Regions from separate parts of the Homo sapiens genome. Here region 1 is linked to region 2. The links come from fine-mapping of genetic effects on gene expression. A gene starts in region 2. The other region holds a variant in brackets. All regions are shown on one strand. Distances are between the middles of the regions. Region 1 overlaps TFG (trafficking from ER to golgi regulator). Region 2 holds the start of TFG (trafficking from ER to golgi regulator).

The links. PIP is the estimated chance that this variant, and not a neighbour inherited with it, causes the effect.
Region 1: its variant is fine-mapped to the expression of TFG in whole blood (TOPMed, PIP above 0.99). The same link has a PIP of 0.9 or more in B cells, CD4 T cells, CD8 T cells, NK cells, ileum and monocytes.

Annotation. Positions count from the first base shown.
Region 1 is chr3:100,740,365-100,756,641 of GRCh38, reverse strand. It overlaps TFG (trafficking from ER to golgi regulator), which reads right to left. Exons shown (of 8, transcript NM_006070.6): 7 at 11,711-11,809; 8 at 7,678-8,493. The coding sequence ends at 8,111. It overlaps ABI3BP (ABI family member 3 binding protein), which reads left to right. Exons shown (of 68, transcript NM_001375547.2): 64 at 1,951-2,030; 65 at 2,794-2,823; 66 at 3,694-3,855; 67 at 4,968-5,090; 68 at 6,032-7,486. The coding sequence ends at 6,147. Among named protein-coding and RNA genes, the nearest start is that of TFG, 39 kb to the right of the region's middle. The variant C/T (reference allele first, on the strand shown) is at 7,813.
Region 2 is chr3:100,700,478-100,716,754 of GRCh38, reverse strand. It overlaps TFG (trafficking from ER to golgi regulator), which reads right to left and starts at 7,261. Exons shown (of 8, transcript NM_006070.6): 1 at 7,034-7,261; 2 at 2,886-3,112. The coding sequence starts at 3,069. RefSeq lists enhancers at 5,911-6,801, 6,802-7,693 and a silencer at 6,935-7,164.

The DNA of each region.
Region 1 (16,277 bases), 40 kb before region 2:
CGAATGTGGAATGCACTGCCCATTTGAATCAAAGTCCAGATGGCTATGATTTCTTTTTTTCCATTTTCAGTTCACTGTAGTTCTATGGGCTTTTTTGTTTTGTTTTGTTTTCAGGCCTCTTAGCAAAAATTTAATCTCTGGAAAATATTTCATGTGAAAATACCCCATGTGTGTGTGATTTCTGTAGGTGACAAAGGTGTTTTTGTATCAACAATCTCTCATTGCAAATGACAATGACAAAGGCATGTGCCACCATGCCCAGCTAATTTTTGTATTTTTAGTAGAGACAGGGTTTCTCCATGTTGGTCAGGCTGGTCTCAAACTCAGGACCTCATGTGATCTGCCTGCCTCGGCCTCCCGAAGTGCTGGGATTACAGGCACGAGCCACCGCACCTGGCCAGTTTTAAAGTTTTGAAAAGCAAAAATAGTAACAGTACAAGTGTTTTGAGCCTCATTGCTCTCAGCTGAAAATTAGGATAAGATTTATCTCATCAGGGTTTACATGTGTTGTATTGCTTTATATATGTAGAATGTCTAATGCATCTGATACATAGTAAGCATTCAGAAAATGGTTGCCATTGTTGTAGCACTAGAATCTGTTCTTAGATACTAGCAATGTTAACACAATACCTCAGTGATCAAGAAACTGACTCAAATTTTTTTTCCTGCTCATTTAGTACCATCCGTACCAAACTGACAGCTGTCATCCATTTTTCACTTGTTTATAAAATATCTATCTTTTGTGCATTCTGCATTCTTATTTAATTATAAACTTCTCAAAGACGAAATTTATCTCCCAAAAGCCTTGAGCAAATCTGAAACTCTCAAAATATTATTAGCTGACTCAGGTTGACTTTTGAATTCAATGTTCTTTCACTGCCAAGTCCACTTGCTGCTGAAGGGAAATCTTAATTTCAGGCAAATGGCAAATTGCTTTACTGTTTACATTTCTTTAAAAGATTTGCTTTGCTTACATATTTTATGAATAAAAATTGCTAATACTGCACAATAATTTGAAGAATAATTCTTAAGGATACAATCAACGGAACTTATAATTCCAAGGGACCTAGGGTTGTTTGGGGGTTTTGTTTAACAAAAGGTTAAGGGACTGGCCGATATGAATTTGGGGTATGGAGGGAGAGAAATGCCTGTGTTTGTGTTCCTGCTCTTTGTAAGGCAACATTACCATGCCTCTTTTCTGGAGACATCATAGAATCCTGTGATCCACAGAAGACCCAAGTTCCAGGCGATACAACTAGGAAGTCCTTGCAAAGAAACATTTATGTGTATCTATTCCCATAGCTTAGTCTACAGTTAAACAGACTAACTATAGCTTAGTCTAGTAGTTCTCAAACTTCAGTGGGCACATGACTCACCTAGGGAAGTTATAAATTCTTACCTGAATCTCCTCAAAAATTGCTTCAATACCTAGAGTAGGACAAGACACTTTCACCACTGCCACCCTATGATGTGATTCTGACATAAGTAGTTCAAACTCCACAGTGAGAAAGATGGCCTAAGTCCAGGGTTATACTCAGGGTTGGGATAACAGAAAATAAAATGGAATCTTGCCACTTCTTGGCCCCAGGAAGTAGCTGAGACATCTTAAAGAAACAGGCTCCTTGTTACTGGAATTAGCCTTTGTCTACCATATACCACTTTCTTATATGTTTATTAACCTGCCAAGTCATTTGTACTAATTGGGAGATTTTTAAAGACAACCATCTTTTTTATTAACTTAATGCTTACTCAAACATTAGACAAGCTGTTCAGATAGTAAAACTAAGAAATCATTTTTCTTTCCTCAACCTGCTTCTGGAACATATGTTACCATTCACTGTCATAATTTCAAAGGGATGTCAGTATAGTGGATGTCCGTATAATAGGGCAATGTTGCCTCCTAGCCCTCAAGAATGTATTACAAGTATTTTTTTATTTTCCCCTAAACAGTTATGAATTCCAGGTGAAACCCAAAAACCCGCTTGGTGAAGGCCCGGTCAGCAACACAGTGGCATTCAGTACTGAATCAGGTAATTACATCAACAGTAATTCCCAAAAAGGATGTAAAAGGGCCACAGTGGAGCAATGTTTTGCGTAGGAAGTTTGTTTGAAACCCACTACATGTACTGTTTCTTGAATTTCTAAAAACCCATTTGTGGGAAAAAGCAAACTGATGAAGGTTTAGAGAAACACCATGCATATTTTTCCTCACTTAAAGACACATCAGTTTAATTTAAAAAGCATAATGAATCTATACTCTTCCAAAAAGCTAGTCAATGAATCCTCTCCTGCATGTCTAGAATGAAAATACCAGTGAGTACATCCACAAAGGGAACCCATGATAGTTTAATAACAGCTGTCAAACTTCCCAATTAGACCTTACAATCTCCAATTCCTTAATGAGATACATCTGCACATACAGCATTAATATTTGCATAATTTTTATACCAACTGTAGTTCATGGCATCTTGGTGATTTTTACCATGAAGTTTTTCTATCAAACTAAAAGCAGCAGCTTTTGAAATTCAAGTGAAAGCTGGAACAGCGACAAATGTTCCTAAGTACTCAAATTACATGTAACAGATACAGCTGAATACCTACCAGGCAGGAGATTATTCAATCAAGAACAATTTCCAAAACAAAGCAAACTTTCAAATTCAATCCTTAGCAAAAGAGTACCATTTTGCAAATAAGACTTCTTAACAAGTGTAAGCCCCCATCATCTTCACCATGCCACTGGAATGTTGGGGTTTTACCTAGTAAGGTCTGACTTTTCTATTTATTTCTCCTCAGCGGACCCAAGAGTGAGTGAGCCAGTTTCTGGTAAGTACCTGTCTCAATGAGGCACAACTACATGCTTTTCTAAATTTATTCAACTGAACAGGCATGGCAGAATCTGAATCATGATTTCGCGTTTTTCCACTTAGTCTTCTTATAACACCAAACAGTTGTGAATGTTTACCTACACATTGTACAACACTGAGGACCCATGATGTTCTGGGAACAAGTTGGACATTTTGAAATTTGCTTTCACTCATGCACCAGGCTTATTACTGTTTAATAAAACAGCCAGTGTAATCCCAGCACTCTGAGAGGCTGAGGTGGGAGGATTGCTTGAGCCCAGGAGCTGGAGACCAGCCTGGCAACGTAATGAGACTCCCTCTCTACAAAAAATTTAAAAATAAAAAATTAGCTAGGCATGATGATGCACACCTGTGGTCCTAGCTACTTGGGAGGCTGAGGTGGGATGTTCACTTGAGCCCAGGAGGTTAATGCTACAGTGAGCCATTATCCAGCTTGGGCAACAGAGTGAGATCCTGTCTCAAAAAAAAAAAAAGATATTAACACCCTCATTTCCACTTTTAATAACAAGTCATATTAAAGCAGTTGTCTAAACTTTATAACATGCTACAAAAAAGAAACCTAAATTTGCTCCTAAATGACACTGTCTACATCCAGCTCTGCAGAGGCTATTCAACACCTAAACACCTTAACATGCTGCTCTCAGATTTATCTATTGACAGAAACTTACTCTGGGGTTTACTTGTTTAAATCCCTCTAATATTTTTGGCTCCAGTATTTAGCATGGGGGGAAAAAAAGGTATCAGCAAGTTGACAAATTTTGTAAACTGATTTCTTGAAGTATCTGACCCAAGAGTCAGATACTAAACTCAAACTATTTTCCTTTTGTAGCAGGAAGAGATGCCATCTGGACTGAAAGACCCTTTAATTCAGACTCTTACTCAGAGTGTAAGGGCAAACAATATGTCAAAAGGACATGGTATAAAAAATTTGTAGGAGTGCAGCTGTGCAACTCTCTCAGATACAAGATTTACTTGAGCGACTCCCTCACAGGTAAGCAGAGCTACCAGCTCTGTTTTCAGCCCTTAACTTATGGGAATGTTTTGCAGCATTGTACAACTTGGCCTTTTCTTAAGAGTTTCAGGCACGAATGGGTGCTGTAAACACAAGTTTTCCTCTGAGCAAAATGTTACGGAAACAGTTATCATTCCTAGAAAGCAAGGATTTAAGACATGCTATTAGAAGGTAAATAATAAAAATGCAATTATAAAACAGTGCCATCATGACAAACTGGAATGTACATTCACTAACCATGGTCAAACTCCATTTTGTTACAACCATCCAGGGATAAAAAAACCGACTGACAATAAAGTGACTAAATCTAACAATAACCATGGAATGAATATAACATCTTCAAGATGCTAGAAGAGCTACAACCCCCTGCTCCGTGCCCAATAGGTTATAATTTTCTATATTTACAGAGTAAAAATTTTTAATGAATAGGCCTGGCCCTAACATTAAAAAGTAGATTTTTTTCAGTCATTCAACTCTTCTAAGTGCTGAACACAAAGCAGCATAAAAGATATTTCCTATTTTCCTAAAGCTTACCTCTCCTTCCCTTCCTTAGTAAGAAGAGATAGACAATACATAAATAAGTAAACATTTCATAGAGGTACTTTAAAGAACATTTTCAAAAAGGTGAAGGCCTCTCTAAAAAGTTAGTTAGCACTAGCTAAGGAGAAAATTGAGAAGGAACTAACCACACAAAGGTCTAGAGGAAAGAGAAGGTCAAAGGCCTAAGGTAGAATACACCTGGCCAGTTCCACCAGTATGGCCCAGACTTAGTAAGTGGAGGGGCAGGCAGGTGTGAAATCATGTGGAGTTTGAAATCAGGTAAGAACTTTGGATTTTATTCTGAGTATAATGGGAGACTGCTGGGGAAATTTATGGAGAGAACGAACATTAACTGACATGCATTTTTAAAAGATCACTAATCCCTGAAAGGGAGGGGAGGAAGAATACAGGTAGGCAAGAAACATTGTTGGTTTGAACTAGGGTAATAGAGAATGAGGGGAGAAAGTACAAAAACAGTAATGATGATTTCAAAATTGTCACATTTCAAAGTAAGAAAGTAAACTTTATCCTTTTAATTTCTGGTTCTTCAGGAAAATTTTATAACATAGGTGATCAGAGGGGCCATGGAGAAGATCACTGCCAGTTTGTGGATTCATTTTTAGATGGACGCACTGGGCAGCAACTCACTTCTGACCAGTTACCAATCAAAGAAGGTATGTTTTCTGATCCTCCTCATAAGAACAGAGTTTTACAGATTAACTCAGAAAGAAATCAAGCTGAGGAAAGCAAGCAATTTAAAAAGAATTCTATAGTACTACTGCTCCACATATCTAGGAAAAAATGAAGACTTCAATGTAAGTTTCTCAGCTTAGAAACCTGGAGCCAAGGGAAATTACAGACATAATATAAATGCATTCTACTTCAAGAAACTCTAAACTTGCAAAAACAGCTATAAAAAAGCAGTTTCCCAAACTTAAATCACTCATTTATTAATGTTATGGGTTTTGTCATACTGAGTGTACTTGCGTTATTTTTATTTCCTTAAGAAAAAAAATTTTTTAACTACTGCTATCATAAATGGAAAAAATAGTACTTACCTTGCAAGTAACTGTATAAATATAATTAGAATAATTCTGTGGGAAATGAATAACCTCTGTAAATTGCTAAAGACCCATTGGCACCAAGCTGTGTAATGAGGACTGAATAAGACTGAAAATTAATCCTTGTCTAAGCAGTGCAGAAGGGGGTAAATTAATTGTTCCTATTAGTCCAGAATCACCTGGAGGTTCTCTAAATAAACTATTTGATTCGATTTTTCAGTAACACATTTTGTTCACGGGCACTTAAAAATACCAACAATACTGAAAGATGACCTACTAAGTTCTTTGAACACATAATGGGCAGTGAAACTCACTACCAACCATCCCCTCCTAACTTGACACGGCAAATGTCAACAATTTTTCAGGTGCCCATTTTAGCCAACCATGACTACACCTCAGGAAAAAACACCAGAACTTCTTGCTCTCAGTTTTCTAAATTACCTCGCTTCACTAAGATTAGCCTTCAGCTAGTCAACGACATCCTTCAATCTATGAGCTGTGAGGGCAAAAATATAATACAGCAGCTATTAAAATGAAACTATTTTCTCTCTCAGGTTATTTCAGAGCAGTTCGCCAGGAACCTGTCCAATTTGGAGAAATAGGTGGTCACACCCAAATCAATTATGTTCAGTGGTATGAATGTGGGACTACAATTCCTGGAAAATGGTAGATGCTGCACAAAGTTACCTTCTGTTTCATCATTGCAAACAAAAATCATTGAAAATACTATGCCGCATTCATTTAAAGCTATTTTGTTTACTATGTATAAAAGTCTACAATCTAATTAATAGCAATACTAGATGTTTATTATTAGAAAAGATTGCTGAGAGTATTTATCAGGTTTTACAAAGTCATTTTAAGAAAGCAAGATACTGATGTTAACAGAATAACATTTTTGGGGAAGCTGGCTCCCTATTCATGGTATTTTAAGAGATCATTTGTATATTATTTATCACACTGTTGTAATGATGTTTTGAGATACTTTTATAACAAAATTAACATCAAAAAGGTATATACTTTTTAAAAAAAATTTACTTTTATTGATGTGTACTCTTCCTATTGATGAGTTAATTCCATAAATCTCTACTTAGTTTAACTTATTGGATCAAATTATCTTCAGCATGTATATCTGGGGAAAAAAGGTCCGAATTTTCACATTTATATTTAAACTTCAATTTTTTATATTTAAACTTCAATTTTTTAGCAACAGCTGAATAGCTTTGCGGAGGAGTTTAATAGTTACACATTCATGCTAATATACATTTCCTTTAAACATCCACAAATTCTTAAAAAGATTGAATCAGTAAATTTCATTTCAGCTAAAAATGGAGTCTAATATATTGTTTCAAAAGATACATTTTTACCCACCATAAATGTTACAATATCTGAATATGCTTTGTCAAACTATCCCTTTATGCAATCGTCTTCATATTGTTTTTATGATTCTAATCAAGCTGTATGTAGAGACTGAATGTGAAGTCAAGTCTGAGCACAAAAAGATAATGCACGATGAGATTGCCTACCATTTTATAGGATATTTACTATGTATTTATACGTTAAGACCTCTATGAATGAATGTATCAGAGAATGTCTTTGTAACTGTTTAATTCAATCTGTAATAAAAATCTAACTAACTAACTCATTTATTTCTATTAAAAAGGTATTGTCCTTTAGGCGGGGAATGGGAATCCTTGCTGCACTGTTGCAGTCATTCTGAAAGGACCTTTCCCTGTACTTACCTTTCAACATGCTTCAATCTTATCAACGCTACATTTTGTATTTTTCAAACAAGTATAAATTCTGCAATAAAGAGATGTAGTTTTTTTTTAAGATTGAGTTTTTGTTTGTTATTTCTGAATGGTTCATCAGTATGTTAACTATACCTTTTATCGAGAAGGAAAATCACTAAGTTTTATTCAGGCTCTACCAACCCCCATTATATCTACTGTTTGTTTATGTCCTAAATTAACCTTTCATCCTATGAAGTAATAAAGTTCATTTTAAACCAACGATTACCAAATGCATTTTTTTCAAAGGAAGGGCAAAAACCAAATGGCACTGTTTTCTCTGAATGGAAATCTGTAAGTTAGTTAAAATGTTTATACTTCATTTTAAGACCAAACACCAATAAGGACTTCTGAAAAATTGTTCCTTTTTTCACATAATGTTAGTGACTAAATTAAAATTTCAAGACCACTAATGGATTCAATCATCTTTATTAACCTATCATCAGTGTTACATTTTATACATAATATCTTGTATTCTCAAAGGGCTCTACTTTAGTACATCATGTTAATAGTAAAAAGCCAAGTAAGATGGCTAAACCTCACCCTAG[C/T]ATTTTAATATCCTCCGGACAAGGGAAGCTAGAAAGTCAAGTCAATCACTTTATACATGTAAGAGTAGTGTTCCAAAGTAACTAAGAAGCTGCTACATTTTTAAGCAGGGAGGAAAAAACTTTCATTTTGGTCTTTGTGTTCCAGCAAATTATACTTTCAATTAACACCAACAATGATATCATAAAAAATGCTCTGCTTTTAAATTTCTGAACTTCTTCAATACAAATTAAAATAGTACTGGAGTCTTTTGGGAGGCCAATAGCTAGCAGCTACATTAATTGGTGTAGAGGAGCCTCCTTATCGATAACCAGGTCCAGGTTGGGTATAGCCCTGACCAAAGGGAGGACGGTTACGCGCATAAGGATTAGGCCCACTTGGAGGAGGGGTCATGGTACTTCCAGGAAGTGAAGTAAAACCTGGTCTTGGTTGATAGGCCCCAGGTTGGCTTGGAGCCATTCCAGGTTGAGAGGCAGGAGCCACAGTATAATTAGTAGGCTGAGAAGTTTGGGCAGTGTAAGTTTGTGCAGGATAATTGCTCGCCTGGTACTGCTGTGGCGGCTGAGCAGGCAGTTGTTGAGGCTGACCAGAAAAGGCAGGAGCTGGTGCCTGGGAAGTTGGTTGCTGGCCATATCCCTGGAACTGCTGAGGTTGTTGAGGTCCAGTCTGCTGACTATAGCTTGCTGAAAAGGCAAAATAAATAACATGTATCTTATCTTTTAGTAAAACTACTTTTCCAAAGAATTAGTCTTACTGTTAGGTGGACCAAAAATGGTGAGAAATTTAATAAATATGTATGTAACAAGCAGAGTGGTAGATTCCATCACATAATATTTCAAGACCAAGTAGTTATCAAAGAGGCATTCTCTACAATTTTTTAAACTCTCTAAGACATAATCCCTGAGAGCAAATTCCTGACATAGCATAATTCCTAGAACAGATGCTCAAATGATAAATGAAAGAATTATACTTTCTAGGAAGACCAAAAATGGGAAAGCTAAATAGTCATTAACCAGGTTTTCAGGGGAGACCTACTTAACAGTATCAAATAAAAACACATTGCGGAGAATGAACATTTTTATATGAAATAATACTATAAATACATCTTATTGTACTAATCAGGTGCTTTAAATTTTGCAAATAAATAAAAAGTACCATTTTCACAATCTTTAAAATCATTCCTTTTAGATTTGGTATCTGATGTTTTTTGCCTTTACAACTCAAAATTTTTACTTAGCAGTACAGCATAACACATAAAAAGCATACCATATTGCCCCATAAAAAGCAACATCTATATTCATTATTTACTAGGATGTAATTTTTTTTACAACGAAAGTCTGCTTCACTGAAAACTTTTATCTCTACCATGAAACACACCTGCAGCTACTTGCAATGAAACCTCTCCATTGACTGGAATCCTGTCAGCATTAAATACCAGATACATAAGAAAATTATTAAAATATGTACAACCCTGCATTAAAAAAAAAAAGGATTGAATGAATTTGAGTATATTCTGAACTCACCTTGAACCTGGGTTCAAAATTTACTCATGAAAGAAACCTTTATGACATAGTCCATGAACAAAACTGGAAAAGGTCAGAGGGAAACTGGCAAACCAACAGTGTCAAAGATGGTCCAATGTTACCACCACCACCTCTTAGTCTCCAAGCAGAGTATTTAGTTGACTATTTCCATATCTCTCAATCAAATTCAAGTTAATAGACTAGTAGGATCAGAAATACAAAGATAATAATTTGAAAAGACTAAATTTTACTCAGAGTGAAGACCCTGACTAAATTTATTAAGAGCAAGCTTAGTTCTTAATAAGTAAATCAAGTATCTTTAACGCATTAACTCATGGTAGCATCTAAATACTGACCTGAAACCAACTCATAAAAAATTCTGAATGTCATACAAGTTCTCCTATCCTCTACATAAAACTTAAATTTTCACTATAAGGTTTTGAAGAAATAGATGGATTCAGCTTTATACTGAAAATGCCTATTCATTTTAACACTGCGAGAAAAAAGAAAAGTGCCTTTTCATCCTGGCACCTGAAATCTGAATTGTTTTTTTTTAACTGGGCCTGGAAGTAATCTGATCCTTAATTATTGCTTAGGGGAGGGAATAACCCTACAGGCTGAAGATTTCATTAGCAGCCCACCAGTCTCTTGAACATAATGTGGCAATGCTTCTATCATGTGTGTGTGTGTATATATATAGTCTCCCTTCCGTCCCTCCAAAATAATAAATAACTTTAGGTGAAGGACATCAGAAATAGCAAAAAAATGGAAATATGGAAATTATGTGAGTTTTTTTTTTAATACATAGGACATCTAGCCTTTTATGGAGTAAGTCTGCCAACTCCAGTCTAGGTTGTAGAATGCAGAATGATACAGGGAAATACTGAACTGATCCAGCTCCCTCCACTGAATGGCTGTATGTGCTTTGACAAGTCACAATCTCTTTCAAAACTAGTTGCCTCATTTATAAAATGCAAACGCCTGAGTCCCACACCCAATCAAATGAAATTCAAAATCTCTGGGAATGGGGCCCCACACATAGCCTCCCCCAGGTGATTCTAAAGCATAGTGAGGACCGAAATCCCGAGATTAAATGATGACTAAATCTCTTCAGCTCTGCTATTCTTTCTATAAATAACATAGTTTGTAACACTGATTTTTTTAAAAGAACTGCATCCTAAAAATAACCTTCCTCCTGATATAATCCAAACTTAAGTTCTATGTATTTTATACAATTAAAAACAAGTAGCTACAAGTTAAGTCACTCTACAGCAAATACAATCTAAATAAAATTGTGTCAAAATATTTCAAATTTTAATTAATGACAGAATGTTATGGTCTAGGTCAGGAGTCAGCAAACTTTTCTGTAAAGAGCCAGATAGTAAATAGTTTAGGCTTTGTGGGCCACATGGTCTTCTGTTGCAACTACTCAACTCTGCCATTCTAGTGCCCAAGTAGCAGTAGAGAATATAAAAGTAGAAGTGTGTTCCAATAAAACTTTATTCAAAAAAACAGGCAATAGTCCAGATTTGGCCTGTGGGCTATACTTTACTGACTCCTGCTCTAGCTGATACCACAAAACTCTATAAAATAGAATTTAGACTAGATTCAACCTGCATAAATTATTTCTAATTACAGTTGAAATTCTGATACTTCAATCTTTGGCTGTAAAACAAGAGTTGGACACAAACTCTCTGACATAACTGTAAAAAATACTGGAATTATAGCCAAAGTTACATTAATAATATTTATCATACTTAAATACATATAATCTTCAGTGGACAGATGGTAAAATAGAAACAAAATACTCAGGATGCTTATTTAAAACAACTAAACAATGTTCTTAGTTGCCTGAATTACATTTTATACGATTTTATTTTTATGGCCTATTTCTGGTATTCCTACATACTTGCAAGAGATTTTAAAATCTAAGTAGCTTAATTGAGCTCTTATTTAAATAACATCACCTTTCCATGTATAGTAAACTGTTCATATTTCTACAGGTACTAAGAGTACACTGGAATTACGTGTTACATATAAATGGAGAGGTGGAGGGAAGGGGGAAAACTTGCACTAAGTCGCCTAAGAGATAAACTGATAATGTTAGTAAGACAGCTTTGTATTAAAAACTTTTTATACTACAAGTTACTGCAGAATCATCTACTGTAAGTTTTATCTCCCCACCAGAAAACTGAAATGTTGATTTACAATATTAATGTAAAATATTTAAAAATAAATAAAACAAATGTTGTTTCCCCTAATAAAAACTTAATACCTATTATATCAATGTACTACAAATCAAGGAATTAAGAACTTAAAGTTTAATGAGTATAGAAACAAAAAACCATGAGCCAACTCCCTTTCAACACCTGCTCACCTGAATACTGAATACCATACTGTTGAGGCTGCTGAGGTGGAGCCTGCGGCTGCTGTGCACCATAGCCGGCCTGTTGCTGGTACTGTTGGTACATCTGACCTGAAAACACACACACACACACACAAGGAAAAAAGGCATGTTTAATGTGGCAAAGAGAAATATTTTTAAGATACATATACATTCCCTCTCCATCCAAACAGAGTAACAATATACAAGAAAGTATTTGTTCAACTTTAAATGTCTATGAAGAAGAGAATGAACCATTTTAGAAGTGTGATTCCTCTGCTGTGGATTAACTGCAGAGAACTAACTGGCAATAAACATTAAGTGCAACACCAGTGGCTACCATTTCATAAAGTCTAGAAAAACAAATGTTTTCCAACCCAGCTGCCAACAGATAAGTAACGCTAATGTTCATTAAAAGCCAAGTGAGTTGAAAATCAGTAAATAAAAATGAGAAAAGGGACAAATACCATTTATATCATCTAAGTCCTTCCTAAAGCACTGTATTTGCCCTCTAAAGGTATGGGCCTCTATTACCATATGAACAAACTCTTTGGTAGCAAGGAACTATATGACATCTTTTGTTCCAGAGCTGAAAGACACTTTTGGAATTTGTCAAGTTTGATTTTCTATGAATATCCAACATCTTTTGCCAATAACGTGGACTCTAATAAAGTCTAAATGGTTCTTCATTGCACTATTTAATAATGGCAGACCTTTTTAACAACGGTGATGTGTTCTTGAACATGGGAGTCCTATTTGTCCTATTTGGGGTCAACAACCACTGTTCCTATGAAGAAACCCTTTAGACACTTATTACCTATGATTTTTCTTTTTACTTTTTATTTTTCTGTCCTCACAATCTGTTCCCATACCTGTGATTTTCAAGCAAAGATTTATTGGTTTATGTCTTTATTATCTCTACTTCTCAATTATTTCACAATGGTTGATTTAGCTAGATGTAATATCTAGTAGCAATAACCTTGCATTTTAATATCTATCTGGTATTTAAATCTTTAAAATAATCACATGTTGGCTGATTCTTTGAAAAATATTCAAACTACCTATTAATCAAAAGACTATGAGCAAACCAGATACTTACTGCTGAAGTGAGAAAAAAAAAAAGACATTATATCAACTCCCACTCAAATCGAGCTGCAGTAGGCAGCTAGGACTCACAGGCTTAGAAAATGAGACGGAGCCCACTCTATTATACCAGCTGCTCAGCCCTATACGTGTCTAAGTTTTTAGTGCTGGGTAGCACTAAAGGAGATACAACTATGTTTATATCCAGCTTATTTCCTAGCAAATGTTTCTTTATAATAAAAAAAGAATACAAATAAAAATCAGCTCAACTATTTTAAGCTATTTATCCTATTCCCAAATATGACAAGAAAAAAAAAGAAACGCTTACAAAAGTTTCTTAAATGCTTTCTTAATGATTTAGACTAATAGCATAAAAGGTAGCACAGAAATTAACCAAATTTAGATGCCACCTTAATCCTGGATTGTACTTCATAACTAACTTTCGGAATAGAAGTGACCAGAATCTAAAATAAAAAGGTAAGTAGGTACAGAAATATAATCAAGGGGAATAAATACGTATAGCACATAACAATGAACTCTTAATTCTTGAAAATTAGAAGGCTTAACTCCACAATAAAAAAATAAGCAAACAGGCAATAAACACATTTAAAAAAATTCAACCATATTAGTATTCCTTATCTCAGATACAGAAAAATTAAGCAACTTACCTGCAGTCAATAGCTAAGAACAGAACCATGAAGAGCTAAGAACCATCACTGGAACTCAGGCATAACTCCAAAGCTTTAGTTTATAAAGTCATTTTGCATATATTATCCCATGAACAAAACAATATAAATATTAACTTGGGCATCATCAAAAAAGGCTGAGATTAAGGTTCCACGTAGTAGTAGACTGTGGTCATCAATGAGTAAGGAACTCCTGGTCAAAACCACAGTTATTCCCCTCAATAAAAATTTATAGGGTACAACTCTTCATAAAGCTTTTTTTTTTTGCATGTTTTCATAAACTGCTATAAATTGATTTTGAAAAACATCCCTAGAGTTAAAAATTTCAGAGGTTTATTATATCTCTACACAAGATTCCTTTTACACAGCAGATCCTCAAATAACATCTTTTGTTCGACATTGTTTCGTTAAAACACTGAGAAGGAAAAAAAAATTATTCCCAGTTGGGGTTACTGTTCTGTGTAGAGTCTGCACATTCTCCCCAAGTCTGTGTGGGTTTTCTCTGGGCACTTCAATTTCCTCCCACATCCCAAAGATGTGTATGTTAGGTTACTTAGCATGTCTAAATGATCTCAGTCTGAACGACTATGGGTGTGTGTGTGGTTGCAATGCACCCTGCAATGGAATAGCAACCTGTCAGGGTTGGTCCCCACTTTGCTACTGAGCTGATGGGATAGATTTCAGCCACCCACAACCCTGAATTGGAATAACTGCATAAATCATTATCTTATTTGTTTTTATTAATCTTTCTTAAATGTATCTATAACTCACATTTGTTTTTAGTCTTTATCTAGAAGTCTGGGGGTATTTTTGTGATCAGAGATATGCTGTAGGAACTCAACTTACTCATATCAATTAGCCTATGGTAGAACTGATTTCCTCATACGTCATCTCACTTAAAGTTACAATTTCCAAGAACCTATCAACAATGTTAAGTGAGGATTTACGGTACTTACTTTAAACCCACCTCATTCAAGTCCAAATGGGACTGTCACAGTATTCTGAAAATTAATTAAGAAGTCTGTTTAATTGTTTAAAAAAAGAAAAAGGATGAACTTCTTCACATACTTGAGAGATCTATAGGATATATGAAGAGAGCAAAATGCAGACATTGTTTATAGTAAGCAATGTTTTGAGTAATAAAAAATATGGTCATGCATTGCTTAATGACAAGAGTAGGTTCTGAAAATTGTGTCACTGTATAATCATATAGTATACTTACACAAACCTAGATGTATATAGCCTACTACATAGCTAGGCTATATGGTACATAGCAGTCTACAAACCTGTAGAGCATGTTCCTGTACTGAATACTTAGGCAATTCTAACACATGGTAATTATTTGTGTATCTAAACATATCAAAACATAAAAAAGGTACAGTGAAAATATGGCAAAAAAGATAAAAAATGGTATGCCTGCCTAGGGCACTTACCATGACTGGAGCTTGTAGGATTAAAAGCTGCTCCAAGTGAGGTACTTGTGTTGAGTGAATGTGAAGGCCAAGGACATTACTGTGCACTACTAAAGGTTTACAAACGCTATACACTTAGGCTATACTACATTTATTTTTTAAAATTCCATTTCTTCAATAAATTAACCTTAGCTTACTGTAATGTTTTTACTTTATAAACTTGATTTTTTAACTTTTTTAATACTTTAGCTTAAAGTACATTGTGCTACTATACAAAAATATTTATTCTTTATATCCTTATTCTATAAGCATTTTTCTATTCTTTTAATTTTAAATTTTTACTTTTTTAAACATTTAGAAAAAAATTATGACACAAACATACACATTAGCCTAGGCCTATACAGCATCAGGATCATTGATATCACTATTTTCCACCTCCATATCCTGTCCCACTGGAAGGTCTTCAGGGTCAAGAACATCCATGGAGCTCTCATCTCCTATGATAACAATGCCTTCTTCCGGAATACCTTCTGAAGGACCTATCTGAGCCTGGTTCTACAGCTTTGTTTTTTTTTAAATAAGTAGGAGTACACTCTAATGATTTAAAAATATAGTATAGTAAATTCACAAATGAGTAAGAGAGTCACCTATCATCATTATCAAGTATTAGGTACTACCCATAATTATGTGAGCTACACTTTTATATGACTGGCAGTAAGTCTGTTTACACCAGAATCACCACAAACACGTAAGTAATGCCTTGTGCTACATTATGATGGCTACACATCACTAGGCAATAGAAATTTTTCACCTCCATTATAATCTTATGAGACCACCATCATATATGCAGTCCACTGTTGACTGAAATGTTATACAGTGCATGACTATATATAAGCTATGTTTTATGTATATTTTCAAAAAGAATCAATGACAGAATAAAGTAAAAAGTAATAAAAAAAATTAAGGGGAAAAGAGAACAGGATGAAGCAAAGAGTAATGGTAAGACTTCTGGGAATTATTTATTACACAGAGTAGCCAACCTCTATCATGACCCTCAACGGCTTCTGCACATGTATAGCATTTATGACAATGGGTTGGTATCGTTTATATTCTTAGAAATTAGAAAGATTTAACTCCACAATACAAAAATGACCAAATAAGCAACAAGCACATGAGTATCTGCTCCCTGTTAGTCCCTCACATACTGAATAGGGCTGACCTGTATACCAAGAAAATATTGCAGAAATGACAGTGACATTTCTGAGGACAGGCTATAAAAGGTTATCTTCTACCTCACTCTCTTCTGATTACTCATTCTGGTGAAGCTGTCATGTCATGAGGTCACCCAAGCAGCCCCATGGAGAAGTCCAAATGGTAAAG
Region 2 (16,277 bases):
ACCACAACAAGGTTCACCCCAGTTAGGATGGTTATTATCAAAAAGATAAATAACAAATGCTGGCAAGAATGAAGAGAAAAGGGAACTCTTACACATTATTGGTAGGAATGTCAACAGTACAGCCACTAGGGAGAACAGTATGAAGGTTCCTCAAAAAACTATAAATCGAACTAACACACAATTCAGCGATGCCACTACTGAATATTTAACTAAAGGAAAGGAAACCAGTATATTGAAGAGAAATCTGCACTCACATTTTACTGCAGCACTATTCACAATAGTCAAGATATGGAATCAACCTAAGTGTCTAACAACAGATTAACTGATAAAGAAAATATGGTATATATACACAATGGAATACAATTCAGCCATAAAAAAGAATGAAGTCCTGTCATTCACAGCAACATGGATGGAACTGGAAGACATTAAGTTAAAAAGATACCACATGCTCTCTCTCATATGTGGAAGCTAAAAAAAGTTGATCTTATACAAGTAAAAAGCAGAACAGATGACAGTAGAGGCTGCAAAGGGTAGGGGAAAAGAGGGATAGGGAGAGATTTATTAAAAGACACAAAAGTACAACTAGATAGAAGTAGTTCCAGTGTTCTATAGCACTATAGGATGACTACAGTTAACAATAACATATTATATAATTTCAAATAGCTAGAAGGAGAATATTGAATGTTTCTAACCCAAAGAAATAAATATTTGAGGTGATGGATATGCGAATTACCCTGATCTAATCCCATTATATGTAATGAAACATTACTATGTACCCCATAAATATGTACAATTATTATTTGTCAATTAAAACAAAATTTAAAAAAAAAAGTACTCTTGGGACTTTGCTAAAAAAAAAAAAAAGTTAAAAATCTGAATTGTAGGCTGGGCATGGTGGCTTATGCCTTTGGGAGGCCGGGTTGGCAGTATTGCCTGGGGACAGGAGTTAAAGGTTATGATGAGCTATAATCATGCCACTGCACTGTAGCCTGGATGAGAGTGAGACCCTGTCTCAAAAAAAAAAAAAATTCACTGATCAAATTAAGACACACATTTCAAAGTCACAGAGGTGCAAATCAATGTATGATAAGCATAAGAAAACAGGAAAAAAGTACTATCCTTTATTGTTTCTTAACATGGGCAACTCTCAAAAATTTGTTTTGGGTATTCTTAGACTACACATCACAAAAACAAAGGAGAATTATACCTTTAGCTAGATGGTCAATTTAACTGATCACCAGTGATTTACACTTCTCCTCCACAGTATAAGTTGTGCTAAGTGGCTGCTCAGCCAGGGACTATACTTCCCAACCCATTTGCATCTTAGCAAAGCCATGTAACTGGGTACTGACCAATGTCATAAGGGCAGAAATGACATACAACACCATCAGGCCTAGTGAGTAAAATCTCCCATATGATTCTTCATACTCTGTCTTCACTCATCTGCTTGCCAATGTCAATGCCTATGGTGAGCTTATAAGCCATGTGTTGAAGGTAACAGCTTCTTTCAACCTGGATCCCTGAAAGATTTCTCAACTATTAAACCACTCAGATTTTAAGATTTCTATTATATCTGCTGGCATTACTTTAAGCCCAACCCTAACACAGACAGAGAAAAAACTGTTAGTGATAAGAAAACTAGGTTAAGCAGTGTCAGAGATGTTAAGAGGTAAAAGTATTTAAAAACAAGGATGGTGTGGGTAGCAGTGCTAAACAGTGAGGTCAAGATTAAATACACTGCAAGTAAGTTCCACAGTAAAAAACACTGGTAACCACCTAAAGAGAAAATTTCAGCAGAGATATTAACAAAGAAGGCAGGTTGAAGAATAGGAAATACAGTCTACTACTATAATTCTACTCAGTGTGTTTGCCGAAACATTTTTCATTCAAAACCTATTTCCATAAAGATAATTTTGTCAACAAATGAGTCTGGGAACACTGCATACTACTAACTTCTGAAAATGTATATAAGCATATTACATAATCTGAAAACTCCTACAATAAAGAAACACTTTTGTCTTTGTTTAAACCAGCTTTCCCTTACTTAGTTGACCATAAAATCCTTTTTCATTCAATACATACTAAAACCTTTCATTTCGGGAAATAAGAATAGAAAAAAAATTTTTTTAAGCTAAAAGAAACCAGAATTATATGGACAAAAGGAGAAAATAATGCTTGTAAAAAAAATGTATGTGAAAATGTTCTAACACTTAAAATTCCCTTCTAATAAACCAATTAGCTATTTTTTTTTTTTTGAGACGGAGTCTTGCTGTGTCACCCAGGCTGGAGTGCAGTGGCACGATCTTGGCTCAATGTAAGCTCCACCTCCCGGGTTCAAGTAATTCTCTGCCTCATCCTCCCGAGTAGTTGGGATTACAGGCGCACACCACCACGCCCAGCTAATTTTTGGTATTTTTAGTAGAGACAGGGTTTCGCCATGTTGGCCAGGCTGATCTTGAACTCCTGACCTCAAATGATCCGCCTACCTCGGTCTCCCAAAGTGCTGGGATTACAGGCATGAGCTGCTGCGCCCGGCCCCACTTAGCTAATTTTAACTGATGAGAGAATTATAGTAACTATAGGAACATCACATTCAATACAAGAAAGTGAGGTCTCAACTACCGTGAAGAGAGGATGGGAAAGAGTCCAATAAAAATGGGCAAAATAACACATACAATACTTAAGACTTTAAGGTCAGGCATGGCAGTTCATGCCTGTAATCCCAGCACTTTGGGAGGCCGAGGCAGGATTGCTTGAGCCCAGGAGTTTGAGGTGACACTGAGCTATGATCACACCACTGTACTCCAGCCTGGGCAACAGAGGCTCTGTCTTTTTTTTTTTTTTTTTAAAAAGACTTTAAAAAATAGCTTTAAAAACACTCTTACCTTCATCTTTATACTTTATTGTTACTTCATCATTACTCAGAAGTTTTCCTCTGAAAACTCGTTGCATCATTAGCACTAATTCATCATAAGTAATATCTTCATTATGAATAGGAATTCGCCGAATATCCTCCCCAAGTTGAGCTTTGATGATTAGCTTCCCACTTAGATCCAACTGTCCGTTCATGGTGGACTCCAGGATGTTCTATATATACAACTCTAGAGAAAGACTGATAAAAGTGGTTTTGATAATTAAACAACAAAACATACCGTAAAAGTTGAGAGCAAAGCTACTATTAGATGCTAAGAAACTCTAGCCTCCAAAAGATTCATTATCCCCATGTTACCATATTTATGTTAAAATGGTCTGGAGGCAACATTATTTTACTGTAGGGATAATAAAATAAGCTTTTATTTTACGTCTACTATTATTTTTTCTCATATTTAACTGTTCATCTGACATGACCATTTAGATTTTTCTTAATATATCTAAAAATAAATTCCTGATCTTCCACCTAAAACCTGCCTCTCCTAGAGGCTTCTTTATCTTCCTTCGAGTTGTATAAGACAAAAAAATCTTGGTTGATCTCTCTCTCTCAAACCTTACATCCAAACTGCCAAGAAAATATGGTTGCCACTGCCTTTAAAATAACTCTGGGGTCCAACCACTTCAGCACCTTCACTGCTATCAACTTGATTCAAGCCACCATCATCACTTGCCTAAATGACTGGAAAAGACTCCTAACCAGTCTGCCTGCTTTTTACCTTTGCCCACTTTTAATCTAGTCTCAGAACACCAGAGTTAACACTGTTAAGTAAAACCTAGTATCATTCTGTTCAAAACCTTCCAATGCATTCTCATCCCAAAAAGCAAGACCTATAAAATCATCTGGCCTCCAGTCCCTGGCCAAGTATTTAACTTCATTTCCTACCTCTCTTCTTCACTCACCCCTGCTATTCCCATACTTCAAGTTTTCCCTTTGTCTTGACCCTTTCTGATACCCCTCATATGATTCAGATTCCTTATCAAGTGTTAACTGAGAGAGATCTTTCCTAACCATCTAATTTAAAATGGCTCCCCTGGCATTATCTTCTTATCCTGCTTTATTTTTCTTCAAAGCACTTAACACTACCAGACATTAAAAATTTATAACATTTTATTGTCTTTTCCACTTGATGGTAGGAAGTAAACGATTATGTTTTCCATATTCCCAGAGTCTACAACAGTGCCTAGCAGACAACAGTCATTCAACAGCTATTAAATAAAGGGAAAAATAATGGATTAATATCTCTTCTTCTCAAGGCCAAGATGTTCCTGAATGTTATCTATAATCGCTGAACATTTTCCAAGCATAACTCCTTCCTCCTCCTGCCCCAAGAAAATGATCTCTTGAGACTTTTCAAGGTATCCTACAAACTACTACTGGCCACATTCTAGTTTCAACTTCCCGCCTTACTACTAGCAGCTTTCTGCTTCCTCCTCTTAAATCTGTTATTTCATTAACACCACACTTCTCTGCAATTATTCTTTATTCTTTCGGGGTATGTGAAAGCACTCACCTACTCCCCCAACATATCAACCCTTCAAGTACTTCAAAAAAGTTTTCATGAATCCTATTATATGAATATTATATATTAATGCCCTACTATTCTTCATATAAATACGCTAGGTCCTTCCATCTAACTAGTCCTTAAATTAATATCTCTAGACCCCTCACCATGCTCTCAACAGATATTTTATTAATAAATCTTCAATGAAATGGGTCATTAAAACTAAATATAACACTCTAAGGTCAATGCAGAACAGAGTGAACTGCATTCCACTCTAGGGATGCCATGCTTATCTTAATGCAAAATAAGAATACAGTTAGCTTTTTATCTGCCAGTTCTCACAATGGACTTCTCGTGAAGACAGTGATTAACAGAAATCTCCACACAACCAACTCTTCGCCTTCTGCAATGCCTTCTGCAATGCTTTCGGTATTCAGGAACTACTTATTAAATACCTACTATGTGCCAACTCTAAAGTATAATTACTTCACCAAGATGGTAAATATTCCATCTTGCTTGCTCTGGCAGCCTAAGAGTAATAAAGACCTTTCAATAAATCAATGTATTTGTTACCTTCTCCTTCCTACAAGAAGTGTAAACCAGCAATAATGTAAAAGGAACCAGTGCTTAGCTTCAGTGAGCTGGTACTATCTATTCCCAGCAGCACCTAGAAAAGTGCCTGACATATAGAATTTAAAGACTTTGTTTAAATTTTTTAATTATGGGAGAAGAAAGCTGTAATATAGATCAGTTTTTACATCCGACCCCTCACACTGTACCTTCTTTATGTAGCTAGAAGTGACTTCCATCAGACACACTCCTAATTAAGAAAAAAATTCCAGCTTTGAAGATAATTGATGGTATGTCCTTCTGACTGGGGTACGGGTTTGTTGCCCAATTTCAATGGATTTAAAATTTGAGGGCCGGGCACGGTGGCTCACACCTGTAATCCCAGCACTTTGGGAGGCCGAGGCGGGCAGATCACGAGGTCAGGAGTCCAAGACCAGACCGATCAACAGGGTGAAACCCTGTCTCTACTAAAAATACAAAAATGAGCCAGTTGTCGTGGCGCACGCCTGTAATCCCAGATACTCAGGAGACTGAGGCAGGAGAATCGCTTGAACCCGGGAGGCGGAGGTTGCAGTGAGCTGGGGGATCACGCCACTGCACTACAGCCTGGGCGACAGAGCCAGACTCCGTCTCAAAAAAAAAAAAAAATTGAGTCACGTATACTTTCTATCTGCCGTGTTTACCTGCAAATTCACTTTTTGTGTTTCCTATTGACTGTAAACATCTTGTGGCCAGGAACCAGTGCTTCTTTCCTAAAGCTGTCGTTTGCTCTTGCAGTCATCTCCCCAGAGTAAACACAAAAGTATCTCAAAAGTAAGTGTGCAACAAAACTTTCCCTTCAAGGGGAAATCCCAACCCAACATTACTTCACATACAGAATTCTGGTACTCATTTTCTCTTCCAAAGTAGAGACTGGTATTAACTAGTTCCTAGAACTGCCAGTAGGAGCCCTACGACAAGCTCTTCTCCCATCTTGTCCTTGCCCCGCCCCCTCTGAAGTCCAGAAATGACTCGGCTTCTAACTTGTATAATATAACCCTCTACCAGGTACACTTTTCTCAGCACTGGGAATAATCTGACACGCCCAAGGTCATATAAAAAGCCTGCCTCCTGAACCAGGTTCTAGGTTCGGCGGACAAACTTCTGGTTCTACTACCTCTAAGGGTAAGACCCTGCTCAATTTCAGAGGCTGTGGCTTAAGCACCTCCTGAGGGGAGCAGTTTCCTTCAAGAAATACTAAGCCAAGTCAACCTGTAATTATTCTAAAGAATGCCAAGAGGCCTCAAACCCTGCCTCAAAGGCAGTGCAGCAAGACGGTAAAGATTCTCACTACTAGCTATGTGATCTTAAGTCCTCCAAGGCTCACTTTCATCACATTCGAAATGAAAACAACCATATCTGAATTTGGAGGAATCCTTGTGATGATTAAATGAGACAGTGCATCCAAAATACTTACTGTAGTGTCCAGCAAAGCAAACTCTTAAAGTTAGCTAGAATCATCACTATAAACCAGGCTGGGCCTCCAGCCGGCGCTTGATTAAGCGCTGACTTAGCCAAGGAACTAGGCTCCGATTCTATGACCCCAATCAACTTATTCCCGTAGGCGCCACTCCACACCCTTCCGAGCTCCTTCGGGTATTGGGCGCCGGCCGCCCCAAACCTCCCAAAGCCCCTCTCCTCTCAATCCAAACGCTTGGAGGCAGGCTGCACCAAGGCATTAGCTGGCGCACTCCCCTCCCGGAGCCCCCCAGGCGCGCCTCCTGGCCACCGCAGCCAGGGGTTGCCTCTCTCCCCTCCCCCTCCGCGACCTCCCTTCCCCTCCCCCCATGCAAGGCCCCGCCCGCCCTCCCCCCCGGCCTCGTCCTCCCTCCCACCCCCTCCTCCCTCCCACCCCCTCCTCCCTCCAGCCCCTTCCCACAGTGCCTCCGACCCCAGCTGCCGCGCGGTTCGAACGAGGCCCTCCCAGCGCCTCCTAGTCTCCCGGCCTCCTCGGACAGAGCGCCCGCAACCCCCGTCTCCAGTGGCCATACCGGCTTGCGGAGGCCGCGGCCGCCGCCTCTCCGCAGGTCTCCGCTGAATGGGCGGACGCGAGGCCACTGGACTGGGGCGTCGCGGGGAGGCGGTGGTCACGGCCCCCTCGGTTGCCCTTCGCGACCGCCGCACCTCGCTCGCAGGCTCGCGCGGGCCCCGGCCAATCGCGCTGACCCAACAAGCCTAGCGAGAACTTGGGCTCTGTACGTGGCAGGTGGGGGAAGAACAGAGGCGGGAGCAAGAAAAAAAAAAATGTCCTTTCGCCCCTCCTTATTGCGCGTGGACATACCCAGGACGCATGCGCGACGGCGCGAGGCGCAGGGCTGGCTGGGTCCCGGCTGCCTAGGCCGAAGAGTCCCTGCTTTCTCACTGGATGACGGGATTTAGGAAGCGTGAGCTGCCCCGATGCACGCATGCGCGGGGCGTGACCACGCACTTCCGGTTTTCTCGAAAGCGGGTATTTCCGTTTCTCGCCAATGGGCGGGGCGTAGTGCGCTGTTCTAAACTTTTTGAGAGTTGGTTGCAGTAGACGTCTGTCCAACTTTAAGTGGTTTTTGTCGTTATTGTTGACCATTGTAGTAACAGCTGAAAAAGAAAAAACCTTTTCTTCTATAAATCCATTCATTCATTATTGGGAGCCTATGCTTTGCCAAGCCCGGTTCTAGGAATGGGGGTGAATCATTTTGTGAGCAAGGAGTTTCCAATTAAGCAGGGAAGACCTACAGCGTTTATGAGCAAGGAAAATCTGTAACTGTGTAAAGGACAAAAGCTGGGAAATTAAGGCTAAAGATTCCTGAGTGATTTTTAGAGGATAAGGCATTTGAGTGTGTCCTACGTACTCTTCCCTTCTCCCTTACCTGTTCAAATAGAAATACAGTATGAGTAAGTAGGAATTTATAGCCAAGGGGTGGAAGTCGGTCAGTGGATGGAAAATTACTAAGAGGAAATATCAGGGGCAAGGGAGATTCTGGCTAAACCAACACAACAGGATTCTAGACGAAGATAGGCCAGGATAGCAGACATCACCTGGGGGTGGTGGAGGATGAGGAACCCCATCAAGGGTGAGGGATTCTCACTACACTGCCTTAACAAGGTTCTTTGCTGAAACTGAGTTTTACAAGAAGATGCACAGATGGTCCTAGGAGAAGGCCCAGGAGCCCGAAGTTTGGCCAAACGGAGAATGTTTGTCACTTCTAAGGTGGAGACTAAGCTGATAAATAAAGCATTTAGACCCTACCTGGTCTCCAGTTGTTTACCAGTTATAAAAGAAAAACTTAAGCTGAATTAAATTTAAAGGAGTTTAATTGAGCAGTGAACGATTTCACGAATTGGGCAGCCCCCAGAATCACAGCAGATTAAGAGACTCCAGCAGAGCCACGTGGTGGAAGATTTATAGACAAAAAAAGGGAAATGAGGTACAGAAATTGGCAGTGAAGTACAGAAACAGCTGGATTGGTTACAGGTTGGCGTTGGCCTTATTTGAACACTTAGCAGTCTATGAGTGATTGAAGTGTGGCGGCTGGAATTGGCCAAGACTCGCTTATTGTAAGAGACGCATACTTCTAAGTTAGGTTTTCAATCTTGTCTGTTAAGCTAGGTTACAGTTCATCCACAAGGATTCAAGTATAGATGTATGGAGTCCTTCTCAGGCCATATTTAGTTTGCTTTAACACCAGATACTCCTAAAGGACCTGGAGTAAATTCTGGTGTTTCAGGGTGAGAAGCTACGTTCTTTTACAACCATAAGTAGTGTGATCTTTTTCAGTTATAAGTCTCTGAAACTTCTGTTTGAGAGTGAAATAATGTAAGTTTACACTGTTCACTTCTGATTTGTATTTTCCAACAGTTGTATTGACCTTTGAGCAATTGTTTGCAGGGATAAGGGAGTGGAGTACTGCAGAAGAAATGAAAAACAGTTCCTAATTGCTCTCCAAAGAATGTTATTCATTGCTTATTTTTTAAAACTGAATAATACAGATTTGGGGAGATGCACTGCTGTCAGATAATAGTATTATGATGTCATTAAGATGGTTTGGGATGGGGTAAAACCACAACCATATGGCAAAGGTAAAATATTCCCTGAAGGAAGTGAATTATACTACTGTTATAGTAGTATATTTAAACTAAAAAGAGGTCAGATCCTGAGGCAGGAGATAAGGAGGTGAACCTTGGCCTATTATAAGGTGAAAAGAGTATCTGCTGAGGATCCCCAGTGAGGGGGCACTCAAGAGTCCTGCTACTGAGGAGAAATAAGCTGGTCCCTGTTACACTGTGGTCATCTGTACGCTAGGAAGAGAGGCACCCATAAGCTGGCCTTGTGGAAAAGCTGGAGCTCATGGAGCTCATGGACTCCGAAAGCAACTTGAGGCTCTTTATGTTGTAATTTCCCTCATGCTTCATCCCGAAGCCATCAGTAAAGTCTTCTTTATGGTAAAGCCTATTCCCAGCTACTTCTGTGGAACTTGAGAGGTGGGGTTCTGGTGATTTCTCAAGTCGAAGCTGATGCACATCTATGTACTTAAGCTCCCAATAAATACAGGTGATATCTAGTGACAGAGCCATAACCTGAATTGAACCAGTTACCTCACTTACAAGAAGATGGGTCTCTTCTACTATGTCTGTAGATACATACTGGCCTTCTTTTCTGCATCTAGATGAATTTGGTTTTAAATGAACACTGAGCATAGTCTTGAACTAGAAAATACTACTCATTTCTTCCAAGGAACTGCTAAGAAAAAAAAGAAAAGAAAATACTGCTTAATGGTAGTATATTAAAGTTGAGGATATGTGAAGGAAGGAGAAGGAGTGCAAGGAAATATCTTTGACCCAGACTGTAGCAAGGAAAGATATGAGATTCTGCACTACACAGGTTATTTTCCATGTTTCATCTGAAGAAGGGTTAAGACTTACACTGTGATTTTAAGAGAAGGAGTCAACCAACCAACTTAGCTACCACCTGCTCTTTCTCCCTGAAAGTCTGTGTAGCTAAAACTCCTCACATGGAATGGGGGGAAAAAATCCTAAGAATGAAAACGGGATTCTCAGACTGGACAAGAAATGAGACAAAGACTATGAGCCCTGTTAGCAAGTTAGATAAAATCTATGTTTCATCATGTTCTTCTTTAGTACTTAGTATAAATCATTTTGAAAATTTGAGTCATCTTATATGTCCTCAGAAGAACAAAGGAAAGCGTGTACATTCCTCCTTGGATGAGAATTTCCAACGAGAAGTTATGTCCCTTGCCAAGAATCAGCTCTGTTGTGGCAGCAGCTAGCTAAAAAAAGAGAACTCCAAACAGAAGGGGAATCATGAGGACCAAACAGGAGCCAGCTAGTCAGCTCAGCCTCACCTTCACTGGCTAAATGTAAAGATTTGCTTGTGTGAACATAGGAAGCTGCCACCCTATGCAGAGATAATGAAGGAGAAAGGAACGATTTCTTACTTTGTACCTTTGAGTGAGTGATTCTTAGCACTAGCTAAGCAAAATACTTCAACCTGTCCTACCAGCTTCACATCCGTGAAATCCCTAAAATGCTTTTGCCTTACCATGATGCTCTATGTCCAATCTCTCTTTAGAGAAACTACTCTCAAAGGCAGTTCTTCCTAGATTTTGTATCACTAGAGGCTGATCTAGACATTCAATACATAGTTATTGAATAAAATAATGAAAACTAAGTTCCCCACCACTTTACAGGGCAAGCTCCCAGAAAAAACAAAAGGATCAGCTGTCAACGGGTAAGTTCCTAACTCCCTAGCCATGTAGGATTTGTCTCTTAGTAATTTGAAATCATTCACTTTTCTTCATTTACATCCCCTGGAGACAGTGCTAAGTTACCTCTCTGCTAAATTACCTGTCAGATTTCAAGTTGAAAGAGAAATGCAATTGTGAGCTGAATTGCATCCTTCCCCCAGAATTCATATATTGAACCACCTCAAAAGGTGACTGTATTTGGAGATGGATTCTTTAAAGAGGTGATTAAGTTAAAACGAGGTCATTGGGGTGAGCCCCTAATTCAGTATGACTGATGTCCTTATAAGAAGAGGAGATTAGGACACACAGAGAGAAACCAGAGATGGGTGCACACAGAGGCAAGGCCATGTGAAGATACATTAAGAAGGCAGCCTTCTGCAAGCCAAGGAGAGAGCCCTCAGAAGAAACCAAACTTACCAAATTTTTATTTCCAGCCTCCAGAACTATGAGAAAATAAATTTCTGATGTTTAAGCCACCCAGTCTGTGGTGTTTTGTTATGGTAGCCCTAGTAGACTCATACAAATGCCACAAGATGTGCAAGAAGATATAACTTTTCATTTGATCAAGAGTAGCTTTGTTAGGCTCATTTAAGAAACCTAGGCCCAATTAGCCGGGCATGGTGACATTCGCCTGTAATTCCAGATACTGGGGAGACTGAGACAGGAGAATTGCTTGAACCTGGGAGGTGGAGGTTGCAGTGAGCCAAGTTCGTGCCACTGCACTCCAGCCTGGGTGACAGAGCGAGACTCCAGCTCCAAAAGAAAGAAAGAAACCGAAGCCCAGTGTGGTGGCTCCTCATGCCTATAATCCCAGCACTTTGGGAGCCCAAGGCAGGATGATCACTTGACCCCAGAGTTTAAAACCAGCCTGGGCAATATAGTGAGACCCTGTCTCTACTAAAAATAAAAATCAAAAAAATTAGCCAGGCATAGTGGCATGTACGTGTAGTCTCAGCTACTTGGGAGGCTGAGGCAGGAGGATCCCTTGAGCCCAAGAAGGTCAAGGCTTCAGTGAGCCATGATCTCACGCCATTGCACTCCAGCCTGGGTGACAGAGTGAGACTCTCTCAAAAAAAAAAAAAAAAAAAAAAAAGAAGAAAAAGAAAAGTAAAAGAAACCTAGTTGCCAGAGTCTAGGAATCATGCATATCAGAGACAAAATCAAACTCTGGGTACTTGGAGACACTCATGTCTCTAATCTAACATTTATGCCAAGGATCCTGCTTTTAGTCCCTCCATATAAATGCATAATTAAACAGCATTCTCAAAAAGCCATTTCAATAAAGAGAGACTTATAATAAAAGATGCAAAGTAAAACCACAATGAGATACCATTTTTCATATATTCATCTGAGAAAAATAAAATAGTTACATAACACTTTGTAAAAAAAAAAAGTATGTGGCAAAATAGGCATTCATGCTTTGTTGTGGGGACATTAGTTTGTATCAACATCTAAAATGCCTTATGACACAACAATTTCATTTACAGTGTACCAGAGAAACGCTTGCACATAAGAGCACACCCATTGTTTTGTTTTCAAATGAAAGACTATAGAGCAATTAAAAGAAATGTACACATGCATACAGTTAGATATCAAAAACATTTTGATGAGTGCAAAAAGCAAGTTTTAGGAAGTTACGTTAGTGTGAAGAAAATAGTTAACATAGCAGCCTGAATCTGCTGTCCTCAGAAAGGCCCACTTGCAAGATTGGCCGTTGGCTGGTGTCTGAGAAATTGGATTTTAGGAGTGTTCTCATCCCATATTTGATAAGAATGGTGAACTGTGTCTAAACTGTTTGTACAATGTGATTTATGCAGAATACCTGCTTTCTTGAAGTCTAGAATTTTGGTACATGCCAGGCAGTGGGTGCCTATGTGACCAGGCCCCAATAAAAACCCTGATTAATGAATCTTTCATGAGATTTCCTGGTAGACAATATTTCACATGTTGTCACAGTTTGTTGCTGGAGAAATTAAGTGCATCACGTGTGACTCCACTGGAAGAGAACTCCTGGAAGTTTGCTCTGGTTTCCTCTGCACTTCTCCCCATGCAACGTTTTCCTTTGCTGGTTTTGCTTTATATCCCTTCGTAATAAATAATAGCTATGAATGTGAGTCTTTGCCGAATCTAATGAGTGCTTCTAGTGATTCATCAAACGTGGGAGTGGTCTTAGGGACCACTGACACAGTTCCTTATACCATTTATGTAAAAGAAAGTACACAAGACTATGAGTTGCTATGAGTGTATAATGTATGCACATATTTCTTTAAAATCTGAAAGTTTACACACAAAGCTCATTACAGTGGTTAATTCTGGGGAGAAGAGGAAAAAGACAAGAGGGGCTTGGATTTGGTGGTAATGGTCAAAGGGGACTTTAGCTCTATCTGGAACACTCTAATTTGTTCTTTGTTGTTGGGTTTTTTGTTTTTCTTTTAAGGAAAACATATTCATGTGTTTCTTAGATGAGAAAATATTTTAAGTTAATTTAAGAACAATTTCAGCCTGCAGTTAGATTCACAAAATTTTAGAGATAGTAGGAAATTTAGAGTTCACCTAGTCTTGCCAGTTCCTTTATAGAGACAGAGCCTCAGGTTCTGATGCCTGGGTAAATGGGGTAAATGTCTTGCCACAAGTCACATAACTTATAGCTGAGATGACAACTCCCAGTCCGGAATTCTTCTTTACCCTGCTGTTGCCTACTGAGTACAGGGCTAGAAATACCATTTTCTTTTTTTTATCACAAAGGTCCATAAAGTCTCAGTTGTTATATCGTGGCTTCATAGCAGCTTATATTAAAGTTCAGCAAATTATAAAGGTCACACTTCCACGTGTACAAAAGCACCAACTTGCAAGGTTGCAAGAAAAATACAGATAAGAATTGAACTATAGTTCTATGAGAAATACTTTGTAAAAGATAGCAGCGTTAAGGCATACCACTCTGCGTTCCTTTTTCTTCTGTTTGTTAAAGGGTTAACATATATGGAATTTTTTTAGAAACATGATCAGTGGCCTACAAAAAATATAAATAACCTATTTTCAGTTTCTGAAATACTTCACAAATTGGACTTCAAAACTTTCATATATTGCTGTTGGGAGCATAAAATGGTACAAACATTTTAGAAAACTGGTGGTTTCTTTTAAAGGTAAATACACACTTACTCTATGACTCAGCAATTTCACTACATATTTCTTATTTAATTTTTTTTTTAGATTCAGAGACGGGGTTTCACCATGTTGTCCAGGCTAGTCTCAAACTCCTGAGCTCAAGCAATCCTGCCCTCCTAAATTGCTGGAATTACAGGCGTGAACCACTGCACATGGCCAGGTATTTCAACAGAGAGAGAGAATAAACATACCCACACAAAGACTTGTATAACAATGTTAATAGCGCTTTAATTTCACAATAGTCAAAACTTGGAAACAACAAAATGCCCATGAACTGGTGAATGCATAAACAAATTGTGGTATATCCAAACAATTAAATACTACTTAGCAATAAAAAGAAACTAACCACTGATACACACAACAATATAGATGAATCTCAAAAACATCCTGAGTGAGAGAACCTAGACTCAGAAGAGAACATACTGTATGATTCGTGTGATATTCTGGAAGAGACAGAATGGTGTGTATCTGATGGATCTGATGATAGAAAGCAGATCAGTGGTTGCCTGGGGATTAGAATAGGGGAAGAAGCATGAAGGAATGTTATGCAGTCATGGAAACATGTTTAATCTTGTCTGGCACAGTAGTTTTACAGGTGTATGAATTTGTTAAAACTCATCTAATTGTGCACTTAAAATGAGTGTATTTTATTGTATATAAATCATACATCAATAAAATTAATTTAAAAATGAAAAAAAGCAAACCCTCTACCAAAGCAAGCAAGCAAAAGGAAAACTAATTTCACCAGTCAAAATTAAGGAACACAAATATAAGACAAAAGACAAAAAAAAAAAAAAAAAAAGGCCCAGCCCAGTGGCTCAAGCCTGTAATCCCAGCACTTTGGGAGGCCAAGGTGGGCGGATCACGAGGTCAGGAGTTCGAAACCATTCTGGACAATATGGTGAAACCCCGTCTCTACTAAAAATACAAAAATTATCCAGGCATGGTGGCGCGTGCCTGTACTCCCAACTTCTGGAGAGGCTGAGCCAGAAGAATCGCTTGAACCCAGGAGGCGGAGGTTGCAGTGAGCCAAGATGGTGCCACTGCCCTCCAGCCTGGGCGACAGAGCGAGACTCCATCTCAAACAAACAAACAAACAACAACAACAAAAAACTCCTCACTGATCCACTTTTGATACTAAAGTTTCCTGTGGTGCATTAAGTGTGTCTTTATGTGTACATAGTATTGTGTAACTTCAGAGTAACACTGATTATACATAACTTTTCAGTGTATGCACTTAGCAGACTTGCAGGCATGTATGCAAATATACTGAATTTACAAATGAGATATAACAATCTCATCTTGGTCTCCGTTCAACATAGTTTGCCCTCTGATTTGGTAATATATTCAAATGGACATTTTCAAAGAAACTTAATGCCAATTTCATGTACAGTCAAAATAATTGTATTTTCGCCAAGAAATTCTGGTTTAATTGTTAAGAGATGGATTTGTGTAATATTTCTATATTTACGTTGAGTGTTAAAAAGCTTACAGTCTAATTTGTGGCTGATTCCTAGCAAAATTACAAGATTATGATTCTTGGGTCTCACTCTCATCCCTGGCTTCATACTTTTTGTTTCTATTCTTATTTTCCCTTACTCCTGACTTCTTAATCAGTTTTTCAGCAGCTTTTATATCTTTTTTTCAAGTACGCATTATAACAGGTACATAAGTAAATGAAGTAATGTAGATGACACACATGTAACGTTACTTTGAACCTCCTTGTGGTTTTTAAAATTTTTTCTAATTAATAATTGCTAATAAAACTTCTCCAAGATTTAGTGTTTTCTTTTTAAGAAAAGGCGGGTGGACACAGAGAGACAGAAAACATTTGAAAGGAAAAAATAACTTTGTCATGGAACCCTACTCAACTGCTATCTGATGTAAAGAAGGGTTAGAGATGTCACGTGTCATACATAAGTCATTTGATCTCACGTAGCATATTTATGCCACTGTTCTACATTTTAGAAGTTTCTGCATAGTTCTTAACATATTTCTTAATCTAACATGAAAAATTATTCTGCCTGGGTAAGGGCATATAAACTCAGAAAATCCTAAACGCTCTATTAATCTTTTGGACATTTCCAATCAAATCCAGAGTAATCATTTCATTATTCTAAAAAGAGAAGAAAACAATAAACTGGAAGAAATATTTTCACCAAGTGTAATAGTTAAAAGGCTATGATCTATAATAGATAAGAAACACAAATTTCTGAGAAAAAATTACAATACCTCAATTGAAAATGGGCCAAAATTATAAATAAGAAAATACTGCAACAAACAACTGTATTAAAAAAAGTTTATGGTCCTCCAAATGTTGATGACA